Homo sapiens: one gene and its partners. Each later gene encodes a partner of the first gene's protein in a complex. Each region holds a gene or a part of one and is shown in the gene's direction. Other genes may lie near its edges.

Region 1 (7,214 bases):
AAATATTAGGAAAAGATAAAAAGACAAGCAGCCAGGGGAGGTGAAATTGGTAACAGAATGAGAGGAGCAAAACATGCTAACTTAGTAAATAAAACACTTGAATAACTTTGCCACATCAGAGCAGGTATTTCTATATCTGCATGCTCACGAGTTTTTAGAAAAGGCTAATGAAACTGCTCTCCAGATGGGAGTTGATGTCAAGTCTTATGGCAAGTGACAATGCTTTTGGCATTATCACAATATCATGTCACTTCACCTAAAAGGTGAAGAATCTACAATAACTCTGTTTGCTGAAGATCTTGAAAGTAGGAAGTGAAATCTGAATAGAGATACCCATGGGGCACATCTACTACACCTCTGTAATCTGCAACCAAACCAGAGGCATTCTCTGACAGAAAAATATTTCTTTGGACAAAAATAAATATATAAAGAGAGTTGGGTCATCAGCCTTCTTTTGCCAGAGTGCTGAGAAGAACAAGAAATTTAAATAATCTATATGAAGAATTTAAAATTTCCTTTATATACACAATTTAACTGTGTGCATATAAAATTAACAAAAATGCACTGATATCTAGCAGGTTGTTTAGGGAATGGCTCCTATAATTAGAGAGAAAAACGGCTTGCCAGAACGTGAACACTCTATTACCAATAGCTGCACATAGTCATTGAAGGTTTAAATCAAACACATCTGTGGCCTTTAAAAAAATTTTTTGCCTGCCAGCACCATGGCTACAAGCAGCTATTAAACTGAGATATAATAAATAATCAAAATGTGGATGCTGGAAGTGCTTGACACATTATGAGAAGCAGTGTTCCTATCACAGATATAAAGAAATGGCATGTTCTTGATGTAATGAGAAATCTTACTACTATGTGGAACACAGACACCTCGGAAGTAATTAGCTGGGGATGGTGGCACGTGCCTGTAGTCCCAGCTACTAGGAAGGTTGAGGCGGGAAGATCGCTTGAGCCCAGGAGTTCAAGGCTGCAGTGAGCTGTGATCGTGCCACTGCACTCCAGCCTAGGCAACAGAGCCAGACCTCATCTCAAAAAAAAAGAAAAAAAGAAAAAAAATAATTATTCACAACTGCTTTGCAAAAGTTCATGTTAGAACCACAGATGGCTCAGATGAACAAAGGAAGATATGTGACGACTCTAACTGGAATAAGCTGCAACCAAAAATATGTCCCATACTCAAATGTCAATTATTTTATAGCTATTGATAATGTGTTAGTTCCCTCTACGGATTGTGAATTTCAAAAGAGAACAGGTATCCTTGATGTAGGTCTGTTTTCAGCATAGTATAAGAGGAAGAAAAGTTGCCTAAGTCCAAACATCCAGGAGAAAAGAAGCATGAACAGCAATGGCAATCAGTGATACACTGCAATCATGTGATTTTGATTCAAAAGCAACAGAATCACTAGATTTGTTTGTAAACCACAAAATAACACATCACGTGAAGCTGGAAGCCATTATCCTCACCAAACTAATGCAGGAACAGAAAATCAAACACTGCATGTTCTCACTTGTAAGTGGGAGCTAAACAATGCGAACACATAGACACAGGGAAGAGAACAACACACACTGGGGCCTGTCGGGGTGGGGTTGGGGGAGGGAGAGCATCAGGAAAAATAGCTAATGCATGCTGGGCTTTAATACCTAGGTGATGGGTTGATAGGTGCAGCAAATTACCATGGCACACATTTACCTGTATAACAAACCTGCACATCCTACACATGTACCCCAGAACTTATAATAAAATAAAAATAAGTAGGATAGAGGACAAACTGCTAAATCTAAGATGCATATTTGCAGCACTGCCTAGCATAGTAATAATTTAGAACATCTGGCAGCCCTTTAAAAGTCAACAGACTGCTTTCATCTCTGTTATCTCATCTGATCGTGCTAGGGCTTGGTGGATAGAATTATCTCCATTTTACAGGGGAGAAAACTAAGGCTCCAAGATTTAGTAACTTACTTCAGTCCCATCAAGGGAGAACTGGATCAGATTCCTGATCCAATTGCCAGGAGGCAAACCCTGATCCAATTGCCAGGATCCAATCTTGATCCAATTGCCAGGAGGCAAATATTTCTGCTGTCCCACTGGAATATAGGGCTTTCCTGGCCTGCCCTTCTAGGGTCTGCATTTGCCAGCCCTAGGATGAACACTTATACAGGAGCTATTTCTAAATGTCTAGATAGCCATGTTTATCAGTGCCCCACCATTCACTATGGTAACCCTAGATGCTGAAAATAACCATATTAAGGAAATTAGCCTGTGTACATTCACTCTCGTCATCATCTTGGTTTTGGTGGGTTTTGGCTGGCTTCTTTACTGCAGTCTGTTTTATCAGCAAGATCTTTATGACCTGTATCTTGTGCTGACCTCCTATCTCATCCTGCGACTTAGAATGCCTTAACTGTCTGGGAATGCAGCCCAGTAGGTCTCAGCCTTATTTTACCCAGCTCCTATTCAAGACAAAGTTGTTCTGGTTCACATACCTCTGACAGGGAGGCCTCAGGAAACTTACAATCATGGTGGAAGGCAAACGGGAAGCAGGCACATCTTACATGGCCAGATAATTACACTACAAATTTTAGGGTATAAATAAGATTACTTTAGGAGAGAATATGGAGTAAGAGGGGGCTTTGCTAGAGTCCTGAAAGCTCTAAAGAGAGGCGATATTTAGAGTTCACACAGCTTAGTAACTCAGATCTCTCTGACTCTAAAACTCATTCTTTTTCTAGGATACTATGCTGCCTCTTAAAGAATAGATATTGAATACAATATAATTAAGTTGATATTAATACCAAATGCGAACCTTTGCAAAGGGGAGATAAAGCAAGGGGAATGATTAAGATCACCAGGAAGAGTGTGAAGAGTAAGAAGAGAAGATGGCATAGGGCAGAACCCTATGGAATGTGAACATTTCTAAAGAAAATGAAGAGCTGCCACAGAGGTGGGAGGAGAACCAGCAGGGTGTAGTTCTTGGAAAGAGCTAACAGAATAAAGGGGTTCAAAAAGGAGGGAATAAGGGCCGTGTGTGGTGGCTCATGCCTGTAATCCCAATACTTTGGAAGACTGAGGCGGGTCGATTATGAGGTCAGGAGTTCGAGACCAGCCTGGCCAATATGGTGAAACCCCGTCTCTACTAAAAATATAAAAAATTAGCTGCCTGTGGTGGCGCACGCCTGTAGTCCCAACTGCTTGGGAGACTGAGGCAGGAGAATCGCTTGAACCCGGGAGACGGAGCTGGCAGTGAGCCGAGATCGCGGCACTGCACTCCAGCCTGGGCAACAGAGTGAGATTCCATCTCAAAAAAAAAAAAAAAAAAAAAAGGAATAATGAAACTAAAGTCCTGCAGAGTTGAAATACGGTAATGGCTTAAAAGTATCTATTTGTTTTAGCAACACTGTTGAGAATTCTGTCTGTAAAGGAGAGGTGAGAGAAAGACCACTAGCTTATCTGTGTTTGGTCTGTGTTTGATGAGGGGGCTTGGGGTATGGGGTTAAGAAAGGTGACTTTGGAATGTTTTAGATGAGAGAAATTTTGACAGCCTTTAAGTCCTGATAGTAAAGAGCGAGTTAGCAGAGAGCCGTTGAGGAGTCATGCAACGGAAGGGTTCATCAGAGGAGCTTGACTCTGAGTCGGCAACAGGGAATAGAGATGGAAGAGGGCTGGCTTAGATCAAAGGAGAGTAGTCGTTTATTATTATTATTATTGCAAAAAGAATAGGAGAAAGGATTGGTGAGGGGTACAAGAAAATTAGAAAATTTCATGGCGAAAGTAGAGGCAGTTCCTGTCAGATGAATTCTATTTTGTCTGTGAGGAAACGGGCGACGCTGCCTACTGAGACTAAGCAGGAGAGACGGGGCAAGCTTGGCTCTTCATTTATGCCGCCTACTCATTGCTGGTAGATTCTTTATCTAGCCTGCATCCTCTCATTTTCCTGGATCCCTATACGGCATTTGACGCTGTTTACCACAAGAGCTGTCGAACGAACGTGAAACACTCAGTGATACTCCAACCGGAACTACTACTCCCAGAATGCAGTACGGCTCCTGGGAAGTGCGGGGGGCTGGGAACGCAGCAGGCCTAGCCGTGTCGCCTGCTGCCATTGGAGGAGCGCTCCCACTCCCAAGAGGCCACGCGTAGACGGGGCGCTTCATGCGGAAGTCAGCGGCGTCCGGTCCCAGCCTCCTCTGGGAGCGGGCAGTTGGCGACCCTGCACTGACCCGCGTCCCTCCGTCCCGAGCCCGCGCGCCCTCAGAGGGTGCCCGGACAGGTAAATGGAGTGGGGTGCGCCTGCGGGAGGCGGGGAGAGAACTGCGGAGGGAGGGCGGAGGTGTCGATGGAAAGGTGCTGGGGTGGAGCGAGGAGGCAGTGCAGGGGTGACTTGGGCTTCTCTGGTGTCGACAGTTCCAGTTGTCGGGCAGGACCAGTTTTGGCGAGGTGCGTCTTATGCCACTGGAAAGGCCTCGAGTTAAAGAGTGTCAGAATGCGTCACTTAAGCTGTCATTACAGGAGGGAAAAAATGTTAACTTTCTCTCAGTTTGTATTCTACAAGACCTTTCTGTAGCATTTAAATCTCTTGAGATCGCCAGAGTCTTCTAAAAACTCTCTACGTCCTTGTTCGATGACGTCACTTTCTGCTTCACCTTCTACTTCTGGCTGTTTATGCTCCTTCGTGGGTTCCTAGCCCCTTATTCGCCCTTCCTCCACTGCTCAGTATTGACAGTCCCCTTCTTCCTCTGTTCAGGGACTGTATTTCTGCCTAGACCCGTTTCCTCAGCTTCAGACCTGTTTGGTGTTTTTATTAATGGCCAATGTTTATCAAATTCTGACTGCGTACTTTGGTAAATGCTTTACATCTCCGTCTCCCATAACTCTCACAACCAACCAACTGTCTTCATTTGGCCTCATTAATTGCTTTCAACTACCTGTATCTCCATTATCCCTCCCTTGATCCCAGAGGATACAGTCATGTTTAGGATATTAATTCCCTTTGAATACCTGTGGCTGAGAGCAGATCCATTCATACATTTAACAAATATTTATTGAACGGCTGGTATATGCTTGACACTCTTTTAAGTGCAGGGGATACAGCTGTAAACAAGACTTAGGAGGTTGCTACTCTCAGGAACTTACATGTTTGTGTCTAGAGGGGAAAACAGGAATAATCAGGATTATGTTATATATTGGTTAATGCAAAATAAAACAGGTGGTTGACTTGAAAGGATGGGATCCTATCCTAAGAAAGTCAGAGGTCAGGGCATCGTCCAGAAAGAATAGTTGTAATACCAACAGGAATAATCTTGATCTGTAACATGACTTTTCGTAAACACCTCTTCTTTTCCCCTGTCTAAGCAGTGTTTATTCTTCATTCTTCTATCTCCTCCAAGGTTATTGCATCAGAATTCATGGTTTATCTGTAGTTGGTTTATTCCTTCTAAGACCCAGAGAGAAGAGTGGGGGATTGGATTACTATTAGCTCAACTGCTTTATCTTACTTAGAAAGATAGTTTGGTTGTGAAAATATTATTCTTACCAGGTCCTTCTGAATATAAAGTTATCTACCATTTATAGTATATTTTAAAACCAAAATATGCTCAATGTTCACTCATTTATTCAACAGATATTTGAGGGAATATTAGATGGTAGGCACTGTGCTGAGCACTGGGAAAATAGGGTAAAATAGACACTTTGACCTCTCTTCCAAGGAGAAATAATCCTAACAGTATACTGAGGAAATTTCTAAGGCATAGGCTGACACCTGCATTCCTGTTCTTCATCCGAGGTGAGATCATCACAAAACATTAAGACATTTCCTGAGCAATTGCGGACATTCTTAGATTATTCACTTATTATACTTTATTGCATTTATTTATATCTGTCTTCCCCATTGTTCTATGGCTCCCTCAAGTATAGGAGTCCCTTCTTCCTTAACTTTATACCTCTAGTGTCTACTTTGACTGTCATATAGTAACCCACCAGTATATACGTGTTGAACTGAAATAGACTCCCTATTTGATCAAATTTAAATGACATGATTTATACAAGGCCTTCTTTATGTAAGGCCATCAGCCGTATTCCTCAACCTTCTCATTCACCAAAGGTGGACCATTCCATCTTATCAGGCTAGCTTATGTACCTTCTTTACCTTGCTCTCAGTGCCTTCTCTTCTTCCATCCATCCCTCCTAAAAGGATCTCCCATCTCTTCCCAAGCACCTTGTGTACCTCCCTCCATTAATTTGGTGGGCCAGTTAATTTAATAATCTGCTCATGATACAGGGGTGGAAAAAAATTAATTTCCTTTTTATATTTCCTATGAAACATTCTGCCAATGAACTCTTGCAAGAATTAATGTAATAGATCCTACTGCAATAATATAATGATACAGAATACTTTTTAAAGATTTTGCATTGACTATCACCATGTGCTATGTAATGAGTTAATTCTACTACTTTATTTGAACAGTTGTATAACCTCTGTTCACACAGCATGTTTTGGTATCATTTGGTTTCTACTTGGTAGAAACACATCTTTTTTTTTTTTTTTTTTTTTGAGACGGAGTCTCACTCCGTTGCCTGGGCTGGAGTGCAGCGGCGCGATCTCGGCTCACTGCAACCTCCGCCTCCCAGGTTCAAGCAATTCTCCTGCCTCAGCCCCCTGAGTAGCTGGGATTACAGGTGCACACCACCACGCCTGACTAATTTTTTTTTGTATTTTTAGTAGAGACGGGATTTCACCATTTTTGGTCAGGCTGGTCTCGAACTCCTGACCTCAGGTGATCCACCTCGGCCTCCCAAAGTGCTGGGATTACAGGCATGAGCCACCATGCCCGGCCAAGAAACACATCTTTGAGTATTACTTTCTCAGCCTGAGGTAATTTAAGTGGTAATGTTATTCTGCCACATTGTCATTTTCAGGATGTCAGATAAAAGCCTCAAGTATTAAAATTAAACTTTTTTTTTTCTTTTGAGACAGAGTTTTGCTCTTGTTACCCAGGCTGGAGTGCAATGGCATGATCTTGGCTCACCTCAGCCTCCACTTCCCGGGTTCAAGCGATTCTCCTGCCTCAGCCTCCCAAGTAGCTGGAATTACAGGCGTGCGCCACCACGCCTGGCTAATTTTGTATTTTTAGTAGAAACGGGGTTTCTCCATGTTGGTCAGGCTGGTCTCGAACTCCTGACCTTGGGTGATCCGCCCGCC
Region 2 (4,139 bases), on another chromosome or scaffold:
GTGCCAGACCTTTTTGGAACTGTTTAGGATACAGCAGTGAACCAGTGATCCCTGTCCTCATGGAACTTCCCTTCTGGTGTAGACAATCACCATAATAAATAAGTGAATTATTTAGAACATAATAAGCATTAAGGAAAAAAGAGCAGGGGAAGAGGGACTAAGCATGCTGGAGGAGGTAGAGTTGCAGTTGAAAGCAGGTGGAGGAAGCTTCATTCAGAAGGTAACATCTGAACAAGAGACTTAAAGGTGTTTGCTGGGAATGAGCATTCTAGGTAGAAGGAAAAGTGAATGCAAAGGCTTAAGCTGAGAGTGTGCTTTGTCTAGGGAGGGGTAAGGAGACCAGTGTGGATGGGCAGAGGAAGGGAACAGTAAGAGGAAGTAAGATCAGAGAGGTCATGGGAGAAGGAGAGATCATAGAGGGCTAGCCAGGCACCGTGGCTCACGCCTGTAATCCCAGCACTTTGGAGGCTGAGGTGGGAGGATTGGTTGAGCCCAGGAGTTTGAGACCAGCCTGGGCAATATAGTGAGACCCCCCCCCCTTTTTTTTTTTTCCTTTGAGACAGGGTCTCACTCTGTTGCCCAGGCTGGAGTACAGTGGTGCCATCTCTGCTCACTGCAACCTCCGCCTCCTGGGTTCAAGCCATTCTCTTGCTTCAGCCTCCCAAGTAGCTGGGACTACAGGCGCCCACCACTGCACCAAGCTAATTTCTGTACTTTTAGTAGAGATGGGGTTTCACCACGTTGGCCAGGCTGGTCTTGACCTCCTGACCTCAGGTGATCCACCTGCCTCAGCCTCCCAAAGTGCTGGGATCACAGGCATGAGCCACCGTGCCCGGCCAACCCTGTCTCTATTAAAAATAAAAATAGGCCAGGTGCAGTGGCTCACGCCTGTAATGGAGGCCGAGGCAGGTGGATCACAAGGTCAAGAGATCAAGACCATCCTGGCCAACATGGTGAAACCCCATCTCTACTAAAAATACAAAAATTAGCCGTGCGTGGTGGCGCGTGCCTGTAGTCCCAGCTACTCGGGAGGCTGAGGCAAGAGAATTGCTTGAACCCGGGAGGCCAAGGTTGCAGTGAGCCGAGATTGTGCCACTGCACTCCAGCCTGGGCAACAAGAGTGAAACTCTGTCTCAAAAAACAAATAATAAATAAATAAATAAATAAATAAATAAATAAATAAATAAAAAAGATCATGGAGGACCACATAGGCCTGATAAGGGCTTTGGCTTTTAGTCTAAGAGAAATGGGGGAGCCTGTCAAGGTCATCACAAGGTGGTTAAGGTGGCAGATCCCGCATAAGAGCTCATGCTATTTGCTCACTGTACTATGGGGTTGCCGAGGCACCGACCGGGCAGGGATCCTCCCAGGGGCACTCAGCCTATATTCTTCATCTTTAGCATGGGGTCCTGTCCCAGCAATTCGTGGAGCTCATCAACAAGTGCAATTCAATGCAGTCCGAATACCGGGAGAAGAACGTGGAGCGGATTCGGAGGCAGCTGAAGATCAGTGAGTTGTGCATGCCCAGCCTGGCCCGCAGGGGCAGGTAATCCCAACCCAACCCTGAGCCTGGCCTTTTCCTTCACAGCCAATGCTGGGATGGTGTCTGATGAGGAGTTGGAGCAGATGCTGGACAGTGGGCAAAGCGAGGTGTTTGTGTCCAATGTGAGTGGCCACAGCCAGCCCCTCTCTGCTGTGCCTCCCATCCCCTCTGAGTCCTGTCCGTTTCTCGACCTCCTGGGCTCAGGTGATCCTCCTGCCTCAGCCTCCCGAGTAGCTGGGACTATAGGTGCAAGCCACTGCACCCCGCTTGCTGTGGCCCTTTCTGATTAAGGGCACCCTGAGGCCTCTAAGGGAATTAATTAGCCTGCCTGGAGTCACCCATCAGATTCCAGGCTGAGGGCTCCCCAGAAGCTCAACAGGAGTTTCTGACCTGCTGTCGGTCTCCCTGTGAACAGTTGCCCCACTCCTGTCCACCCCCCAGATCCTGAAGGACACGCAGGTGACTCGACAGGCCTTAAATGAGATCTCGGCCCGGCACAGTGAGATCCAGCAGCTTGAACGCAGTATTCGTGAGCTGCACGACATATTCACTTTTCTGGCTACCGAAGTGGAGATGCAGGTGGGTGCCCCGCGCAGCCCCAGACGTGAGACCAGGCTCAGTCCAAACTGCCAGCCTCCCGCCACCCTTAGATTCTCTCCCTGAGGCTTTTGTGTCTTCCAGGTTTGGCCATGCCCCCAGATTGGTGCTTATTCCTATCCTTAGCTGTACCCCGAGAATGGCACCTGCCTCTGCTGCTACACAGATGCCCACTCCCTTCTGCATAGCACCCTGCCCCCTCTCCAAAACTTGAGCCTGCCCAGGTCTGGCCCCAGCCCTCACTCCCCCTCCACTAACAGCATCCACCCTTATACCTCTCAGAGGTCCAGTCAGAGTTGCCCTAGAGGGGCTGCCTCCTAACATCTGTACAAGGCTGGGGTGGGGGCGGCGTTCCCCTGGCCCTGGTTGTGAGTTGAGTTGAGCTTCCAGCCCTGTCCTGGAGGAGCTGGCCTCAGTCATGCTACAGCCAATGCCCTTTTGCAGCTGAGACTTACAGGAAAGAGATCTCATTCAGTAGGAGTACTGAGACCTGAGGCTGGTGGTGCCAGGAGGAGGCAGGGATAGGGAGGGCTTTGCAGCAGCTGTAGATAGGCCTGGAAGAATGGGTAAATTCAGACAGATTTGTGAAGGCACAGTTCACCATCTGTGAAAGGTATGAGCCATTTGAGGCCCTTAGCTCCAAGCTACCACTGCAGATAGAGGTTGTATGGGATAAGTGAGCAGGGGACAAGGGACTACATGATAGAAGGGGCCTGGAAGCCATCCCCAAGGAGTCTGAACTTTTGTCAGATCAAGTCTTGCCCTTGTCTTTGTTAGTGCAATTTTTTTTTCCTGCCAGGAATGTTCTTCAGTCATCTGGGGTGGGGTGGGCAAAGGCATCCTTACCTCCCTGAACCACCCCATCCTCTGAGCAGGGGGAGATGATCAATCGGATTGAGAAGAACATCCTGAGCTCAGCGGACTACGTGGAACGTGGGCAGGAGCACGTCAAGACGGCCCTGGAGAACCAGAAGAAGGCGAGGAAGGTGAGCCTCCCAGGCCCGGCCACTGCCCCAGGCACCCTGTGTGACTTCCCTGACCCCCTCCTCTCCCACAGAAGAAAGTCTTGATTGCCATCTGTGTGTCCATCACCGTCGTCCTCCTAGCAGTCATCATTGGCGTCACAGTGGTTGGATAATGTCGCACATTGTTGGTGAGATGTTGTGGGCTGCCCCCTGGCCTGCCCCAGCCCTGGCCCCAGCCCTCCCTCCTCCCTCAGACCCTGTTCTCCCTCCTTTCCTTACAGGCACTAGGAGCACCAGGAACCCAGGGCCTGGCCTTCTCTCCCAGCAGCCTGGGGGGCAGGGCAGAGCCTCCAGTCGGACCCCTTCCTCACACTGGCCCCTATGCAGAAGGGCAGACAGTTCTTCTGGGGTTGGCAGCTGCTCATTCATGATGGCCTCCTCCTTCAGGCCTCAATGCCTGGGGGAGGCCTGCACTGTCCTGATTGGCCGGGACACACGGTTTTGTAAAAAATTAAAAAACAAAAAAAGAGCATAGAAAGCCCTGTGCACGTGTGTTCCTGGAAGGGCTGGCCCAAGGCTTCCGGGCATCCAACCTCCTTACCTCCTGGACGTCCCCAGGGCCAGGTCTGGCCCTGGCTGCTCAGGTCAAACTGCCAGGGGTGCTGTGCCCACAGCAGGCTGGTTCTGCCTTTCTGCACCCCCATAGGAATGGGTGGGCAGGGAGGGGTAACACCGGCATCTAGCTCCTGGCTCAGTACTGTCCCCGGGAAAGGACCACTGTGAGTATCTGTCTTGGAAATGATGAGGCTGACCAGGCCAGGCTGGGACGCAGGTGAGATGGGGGTTTGGGTGGCATCAGTGGGCCTTCTTGTGGCCCAGAGGAAGAGGCACCATGAAAAAATGCCTAATTGAGGCTGTCACTTTGGATGCAGTGGATAGGGATGGTCTGGTTTCAGCAGGGATGACATTGGAGTGGGATGTTAAGCTGGGGAAGAGGTTGCCAGTCAGAAAGCACAGGAGGCCGGGCCCTGTGA
Region 3 (6,985 bases), on another chromosome or scaffold:
GAATAATACTGTTACGATGGTGAGTGGAGAATACATCTAATATTCCTGTTTTGGTAGATACCTAGATATGGGTTGTCATCAATCAGGACAGGCTAATTATGCTGCAGTTAACAAACACCCACAAATCTGTGGACAATTCTCAATCTTAGTACATGTCTGTGATGGTTAATATTGAGTGTCAACTTGACTGAAGGATGCAAAGTATTGTTCCTGGGTGTGTCTGTGAGGGTGTTGCCAAAGGAGATTAACGTTTGAGTCAGTGAACTGGGAAAGGCAGACCCACTCTCAATCTAGGTGGGTACAATCTAATCAGCTGCCAGCATGGCCAGAAGAAAAGCAGGCAGAAGAACATGGAAAGACTAGACTGGCTTAGTCTTCTGGCCTACATCTTTCTCCCGTGCTGGATGCTTCCTGCCCTGGAACATCAGACTCCAAGTTCTTCAGCTTTGGGACTTGGACTGTCTCTCCTTGCTCCTCAGCTTGCAGATGGCCTATTGTGGGACCTCACCTTGTGATCATGTGAGTCAATACTCCTTAATAAGCTCCCCTTTATATATACACCTATCCTATTAGTTCTGTCCCTCTAGAGAACTCTGACTAATACAATGTCCTTGGTTGGCTATGCTCCATGTCATCTTTACTTAAGGACTCAGGCTGATGGAACATTGGAACATTAAGGGTTGTCATAGCAGAGGGAAAAGAGCATCGTGAATCATACATTAGCTCTTAAATTTGCTGCCCAGAAATTACACGTTGGTTTTCACTGGCAGCCTACATCTAGTCTCCTTGCATAGGTGTTGCTGCTGTAGTGAGCTATATTTAGGGGTGCCAATACAGTTGATCCTTGATGACTCCTCCACCCCTCACAGTTGGAAATTTGTGTATAACTTCTGACTCCCTAACATCTTAACTAATAATAGCCTACTGTTGACCAGAATCCTTATCAATAACATAAACAGTCCGTTAACACATATTTTGCATGTCATATGTATTAGATACTGTATTCTTTCAATAAAGTAAGCTAGAGAAAAGAAAATGGTATTAAGAAAATCATAGGAAGAGAAAATATATTTACTATCCATTAAATGGAAGTGGATCATCATAAAGTAAAGGTCTTCATACTCACCATCATCACATCGAGTAGGCTGAGGAGCAGGAGGGGTGGGTCTTGCTGTCTTAGGGATGGCAGAGGCAGAAGGAAGTCCGAGTATTAGTGGCCGCATGCAGTTCAAGCCTGTGCTGTTCAAAAGTCGACTGCGTATTTTTCAGAACAGTGTCTGGCCCACTCAATGTTTGCTGAATGCATAAAGAAAACAAAATTTGTATACTACATCCAACTGGGCAGTTGTGTGCTACCTCCAACAGGCCAGGCATGGTGGCACGCGCCTATAGTCCCAGATACTCAGGAGGCTGAGCCGGGAGGATTGTTTGAGCCCTGGAGTTGCAGTAGTATACTCTCACAACATTTCTGCACATCCTTTTAACCCACATCCCCTCTCAGCTTTATGGGGCTTAATATTAGTCAACTGTCAACTGAAGTCACTTTGCTCTTTTAAATTAAAGAGTAAACACAAAATGTAAAAAGCACAACCCCATATCCCATGGTCTGTGGAAAGTTCAGCAGCCTCCTCAAGATCTTTGTGACTTATTTAGGAATTTTATGTACTTGTGGTCACTTGTGGATTTACAGCCTGATGTTTTGAGCTCACTTGGGTCTTATATCCACCACAATCTTCTCTGCTCTTGCAAATCCAGACAGAAAACTTAGATCTTTGTCCCTACCCTTCTACCCAAAATATCCAACTGCACCAAACACACGGTTTACACAAGGCACCACTCACTGAAGGCTTGGTGTAGTTCAGCCTCCCTCCCACTCAAAGATCCTTCCCAGTTACCTACTTTGTACTTTCCCGGCCCCCTCCCTGGGTTCTGGCTTCTCTTTTCTTCCCCCCAATTCAATCCCCCTCACTTTATTATGCAGGGCAATCTCTCTTTCCTTCTACTCTACCCCAGGCTTAACTTTGCATGGCCAAAAACTGATTAATGTCTGGATTAAACAAAGGGCCATTTATGCAAGATAGAATCATTGGCAGAGATTTTGTAATTTCTTTCTCTTTTCCTCAGTAGGTGGAAGAAAGCTGTATGGAAATTTATTTTCCTTAAACTGCAAGAAGTGGCTACAGTTTGGGTTTAAATAATCTTTTCCTGGCCGGGCGCGGTGGCTCACGCCTGTAATCCCAGCATTTTGGGAGGCTGAGGCAGGCGGATCACGAGGTCAGGAGATCGAGACCATCCTGGCTAACACGGTGAAACCCCATCTCTACTAAAAATACAAAAGAATTAGCCAGGCGTGGCGGTGGGCGCCTGTAGTCCCAGCTACTCGGGAGACTGAGGCAGGAGAATGGCGTGAACCCGGGAGGCGGAGCTTGCTCCAGCCTGGGCGACAGAGCAAGACTCCGCCTCAAAGAAAAAAAAAATCTTTTCCTTCCTCCTTTCTGGTAAATATATACTTTCTTGACATCTATTTCTGATAAACTTTATTTTTTTAACACAGTGGTTCTCAAACTTTTGGTCTCAACTCTTTTGCACACTTAAAAATTATTAAGGGCTCTAAACAATTTTGGTTTATATTGACATTATCGACATTTACTATATGAGAAATCAAAACAAAAACTTGATGTTTTTGAAAGTCTTTTTTTGGAGTCTGGCTTAATAGAAAACAGCTGTTCTGCATTTACTCCGTTGCAATATCACAGTCTCCAGCAAACTCAACTGTATGCAACTCATAAGAAAATCAGAGCGAAAAGGCAAATAACATCTTAGTATTGTGAAAATTTTATCTTGATGACCATTAAAACTGCTGTTTTAATACATATTCTACTTGTGCTTCCTCTTTATGAAAAAAGAAATCTTGAAGAAATCAATGAGATTTTGAATTAAAACTGAACCATAGGCCAGGCACGGTTGCACGTGCCTATAGTCCCAGCTACTCAGGAGGCTGAGTCCGGGAGGATCGTTTGAGCCCTGGCGTTCCAGCTGTAGTGAGCTAGGATGGCGCCTCTGACTAGCCACTGCAATCCAGCCTGGGCAACATAGTAGACCCCCGTCTCAAAAAACAACACAAAACAGAACATGAACCTAAAATGCAGAAGAAACTCATTGATTGAGTTGTCAATTTTAATAGCTATGGCTCAAGACGGTACAATTAAAAACTATGCATGAAGGATGAAGAGAATCCAGCGGCATTAGGGCCACTCTTTCACCTTTGTCTCCATCTAAACTTCCTATTCATCCTTCAAATCTCTGCACAGGTGACGCCTTTTCTCTAAAGCCTCTTCCTTTACCACAAATAACAGTGATTATAATAATAACATTATTAACGATTACTACCATTTATTGGCCACTTACTAGGAGCCAAGCAACATCAAAACACAGCACGCGTCAGCTCACTTAATTTTCACAGTAAACCCCGAGGAGGATGCTGGCTTCACTTTAAAAAGAGGTGACTGAAGGTTGGAGAAGAAAGGCCTCTGGCCTCTAGCTCTGTGCCTTGCACACCTGATCTGTCTCAGCATTTATTGCATCCCGAGGGTCACCGTCCACGTGCCTCTATCCTGCTCAAGGTGAGTTCTTGCAGTCAAAGGTCAAGGGTGGCTCGTCTCCACTTCCCCCGCAACCAAACCGCCCGGTCTCAGTGAGGGAGCCGCCAGAAGGGAAGGAGCCTCCTAGCTTCCCGGTCCTCACGCTCCCGGAGCCCACACGCCCCAAACAGACACAGAAGAGCTCGCTGAGCTCTCCGCGCAGCTAAACCCTCCAAGCTTTGCTGGGAGAAACCGATGCCCGAGAGCGCGTCGCGAGGTTCCTCCTCCGCCAGGTGCGCCGGCTGAGGCCGGAACCTTTTTCCTCCCGCCGCGGTAGCAGGGCGCAGGCCGGAACCTTTCTTCTCGCGTCGCCGTTGCCGGGGGGAGGCGTGTGGGGCAGGACCAGTCCTTCAGCGGCCGGGTTCGCGCCGCGGTCGCCGGCTGCTTACGTGGGCGGGCCTAGTGTGGGGCTGAGGGTGCGGGTCGCTATGGCGGTGGACATCACGCTGCTATTCCGGGCCAGCGTCAAGACCGTGAAGACGCGGAACAAGGCGCTGGGAGTGGCGGTGGGCGGCGGGGTCGATGGCAGCCGGGACGAGCTGTTCCGCCGGAGCCCCCGGCCCAAGGGCGACTTCTCCAGCCGGGCCCGCGAAGTGGTGAGCTGGTTGCTATGGAAACGGCGGGTTGAGGAGGGGGCAGTCCTGCGACAGGGACCCCGGGCCCCAAACCAGACCCCGTCCCGTAAGCATTGTGTGAAGGGGGTGGCTCTAAGGGGGACAGAAGAGTTGGCCTCAGAGACCCTACAGCTTTTTGGGGGAAGGAACAGCCTTATTTTGAGGAAGGGGGACGCATATTGGGGAACAGATTTCTCCTGCGGCGACAGGGATTGGGGGACAAGAAAGGAGATCCTCAGAAATCTCTATCTGGAAAGTGCATGGGCGGCTTTGTGAGGTCATGAGTTCGCCGTCACTACAGACTTGCACTCAGGGGAAACCTCCTGACAGTCCTTCGCTTCCTGTTGCAGCACTGACCACACCATATTTGCCTGTTCTATTTACTTGTCTGCCTCCCACCCCTAGTTGAGATTAAAAACTGTATTCAGCCGAACTCTTTCTTCCCTTTGTCTCTGCAATAAGTAGGACTCAGTTCCTCTTGAGACGGGTTTAGGGTAATCTTTCGCAAACACAGTGTTACAGTCACCTCAACTACTTTCTGTTCCCTGATCAGAGCAGGTGTCCCTTCATCTCCCTGGGAACAGGAACCTTTTCCTTAAGGGCAGGGACAGTGTTGTTTTCATCTCAGAATGCATGACTCATAGCATTGCTTAGTAAATGTTTGTTGAATGAGTGAATGAACAAATGGCTGTCTTTCCCATTAAACAGAAAACTCCATAAGGGGAGAGCTGTTTGTCTTGTTCCCTTTTGTGTTCGTGACACCAAGGAGGTATCTAGGTTTTGTGGGGCCTACAGCTTATATAGTTCTGTCTGCCCTCTTCAAGAAATAAAAATCACCAAGAAAGATTCAGAGCTTTGGAAGATTGAAGAGAGGGACCCTAAAGCTTAAGCCTCATTAATTTCACAGTAAATCCTTCTCTGCTTGGCATACACTTGGCACTGTATAGACACTCAGATATTTTTGAATGAATGTAGTCATGCATGCATTAATGACAGTTAGCAGAGGATACTTAAACATTAGAAAGGGGATTGGACCAGATGAATACACTCGCCCTATTGATGACCGTCTATGAAGCACCTACCTTCTGACCAGCCTCGTGTTAGAGTAATATGATGTAAAAGCAGTGGTGGAGTAGACGGACATAGACATAAAACAAGTGCCATAAAGCCTTGCAGGTGTTGTGTAGGGCACAAAAAGAATGTGGTCAGTTCTACCTGAGGACCAGAAAAGGCTTTATAGAGGCGATGATGCCTAAAACAAATCTTGAAAGAGGATTAGTTGGTTCCAGTGCAGAAGGACATCTCAGGCTAAGAGAATAGTATGCGCTAAGCTGTGGAGGTAGGTAACAGTCTGACATAAGTTGGTTCAATAAACATTTGAGTGAGACTGGAATGTGGGACTCTCATAAAAATTGGACGCGGAGATCTTAAAGGGCTTTGTGTATCATTGCAGAGTTTGAATTTTGCCCTGTAGATGGTCAGATGTTATCTGGTAGAGAAAGCACCAGAGAAGGAGCCAAGAGACGAGGTTGTTGTCTGAACCCTGCAACTATTAGCTATATGATTTCATTAAGCAAGTTTTAAGACCTCAGTTTATTTACCTGTAAATGGTCCTTTTTTTCTCCTCCTCCTTTTAAAAAACTACCTTGGTCCTCTATATGTAACAAATTAAAGTGGGAGCTTCCTAGGTTGAAATAAGAGGAAGAGAAACAGGACACTCTCCCTCCCAGTTTGGCCCAAGCACTTCTTGAGATTCCTTTTGTAGAACTGTGGTATGAATATCACAGTATTGGCTTTTTAAGGGTCCCTTCTAACTCTGAAACCACTGATTTATTAACACTGTGCTAATTTTGAGTCCTGCTCAGGGAAAGGGGGGATTTGGGAATGGTAGAGACAGGAGGCACAGTTGGGTTGGCAAGCCCTTTGGAGAGCCCTGTGATCACTTCCACCTCTCCCTGAGTGGTGAAAATGTGTTTGAGTTTTGAGTTAATGGGCCTCAGGGACAGTAACAGTCCCATAGGGTGCTGAGTTCCCTGTCACTGGAAGTGATTAAACAGAGTGATGACTGCTTTTCAGAGATGTTTGAGAAAAGCTTTGTGCATATGTCACAGGGTTGGACCGCATGACAATGCAACTTGCAGTTCTGCTATGTATTGATGTGAGTAGGTGTCACATCACCTTAAGTGAGTTCATGGGCTGTGTTGTTCAGGGACACTGTCCCCCTGACGTAGAGGAAACATACATTCTTTTAAGCAATTTTGATTTTATGTTGTCATTGCTTTGTGTATTATCTCCTGTTCTTGCAACCGTTCCCCACTCCCCATCTTCTCTTGTGGGAAGTTTAACTAGAAGAGCTAGTGATGGATGTCCTGTGCTTTTACTACAATTAGATGTCAAAAGTTTGGCTGTTATTTTGTTTGGCCTGGATTCCTTATAGAGAAAAGTCTGGTAAATACCAGAAGCACATATTCTAATTCAGGTTTAGCCCTGGTTGTCAGACTTAATGAAATGTAATAAGTTATAGTATGCCTTTTGGTAAGTGCCTTCCTTGAAGCATTTGCTGTTACTTCTAGGATGCGTTTTATCTGGTTCAATTTCTATTCTTCCATTCCATTCCTCAAATATATGCCTGATGCCAGATTTCCATCTCACTGAATTGTTGTAGAGGTTATATTAAGTTGAATAAAATTGCATTGAAACTGCAATTTTATTGCAGTCCCTACCTTCCAA

Evidence for each region. Proteins that work in one complex are often made in the same cells at the same time.
Region 2: VAMP7 (region 1) and STX4 share a complex: the UniProt entries of both Homo sapiens proteins name them as parts of the SNARE complex.
Region 3: VAMP7 (region 1) and STX18 share a complex: the UniProt entries of both Homo sapiens proteins name them as parts of the SNARE complex.

What each region holds. Positions count from the first base shown.
Region 1 is NC_000023.11:155,877,163-155,884,376, forward strand, and holds the start of VAMP7 (vesicle-associated membrane protein 7), read left to right. Parts: upstream 1-4,182; 5' UTR 4,183-4,286; intron 4,287-7,214. UniProt on the Homo sapiens protein: Involved in the targeting and/or fusion of transport vesicles to their target membrane during transport of proteins from the early endosome to the lysosome. Required for heterotypic fusion of late endosomes with lysosomes and homotypic lysosomal fusion.
Region 2 is NC_000016.10:31,036,526-31,040,664, forward strand, and holds the end of STX4 (syntaxin-4), read left to right. Parts: intron 1-1,400; coding exon 1,401-1,509; intron 1,510-1,588; coding exon 1,589-1,665; exon of another isoform or gene 1,666-1,668; intron 1,669-1,984; coding exon 1,985-2,122; intron 2,123-3,015; coding exon 3,016-3,126; intron 3,127-3,197; coding exon 3,198-3,278; 3' UTR 3,279-3,293; intron 3,294-3,386; 3' UTR 3,387-3,639; downstream 3,640-4,139. UniProt on the Homo sapiens protein: Plasma membrane t-SNARE that mediates docking of transport vesicles. Necessary for the translocation of SLC2A4 from intracellular vesicles to the plasma membrane.
Region 3 is NC_000004.12:4,539,049-4,546,033, reverse strand, and holds the start of STX18 (syntaxin-18), read left to right. Parts: upstream 1-3,985; 5' UTR 3,986-4,069; coding exon 4,070-4,237; intron 4,238-6,985. UniProt on the Homo sapiens protein: Syntaxin that may be involved in targeting and fusion of Golgi-derived retrograde transport vesicles with the ER.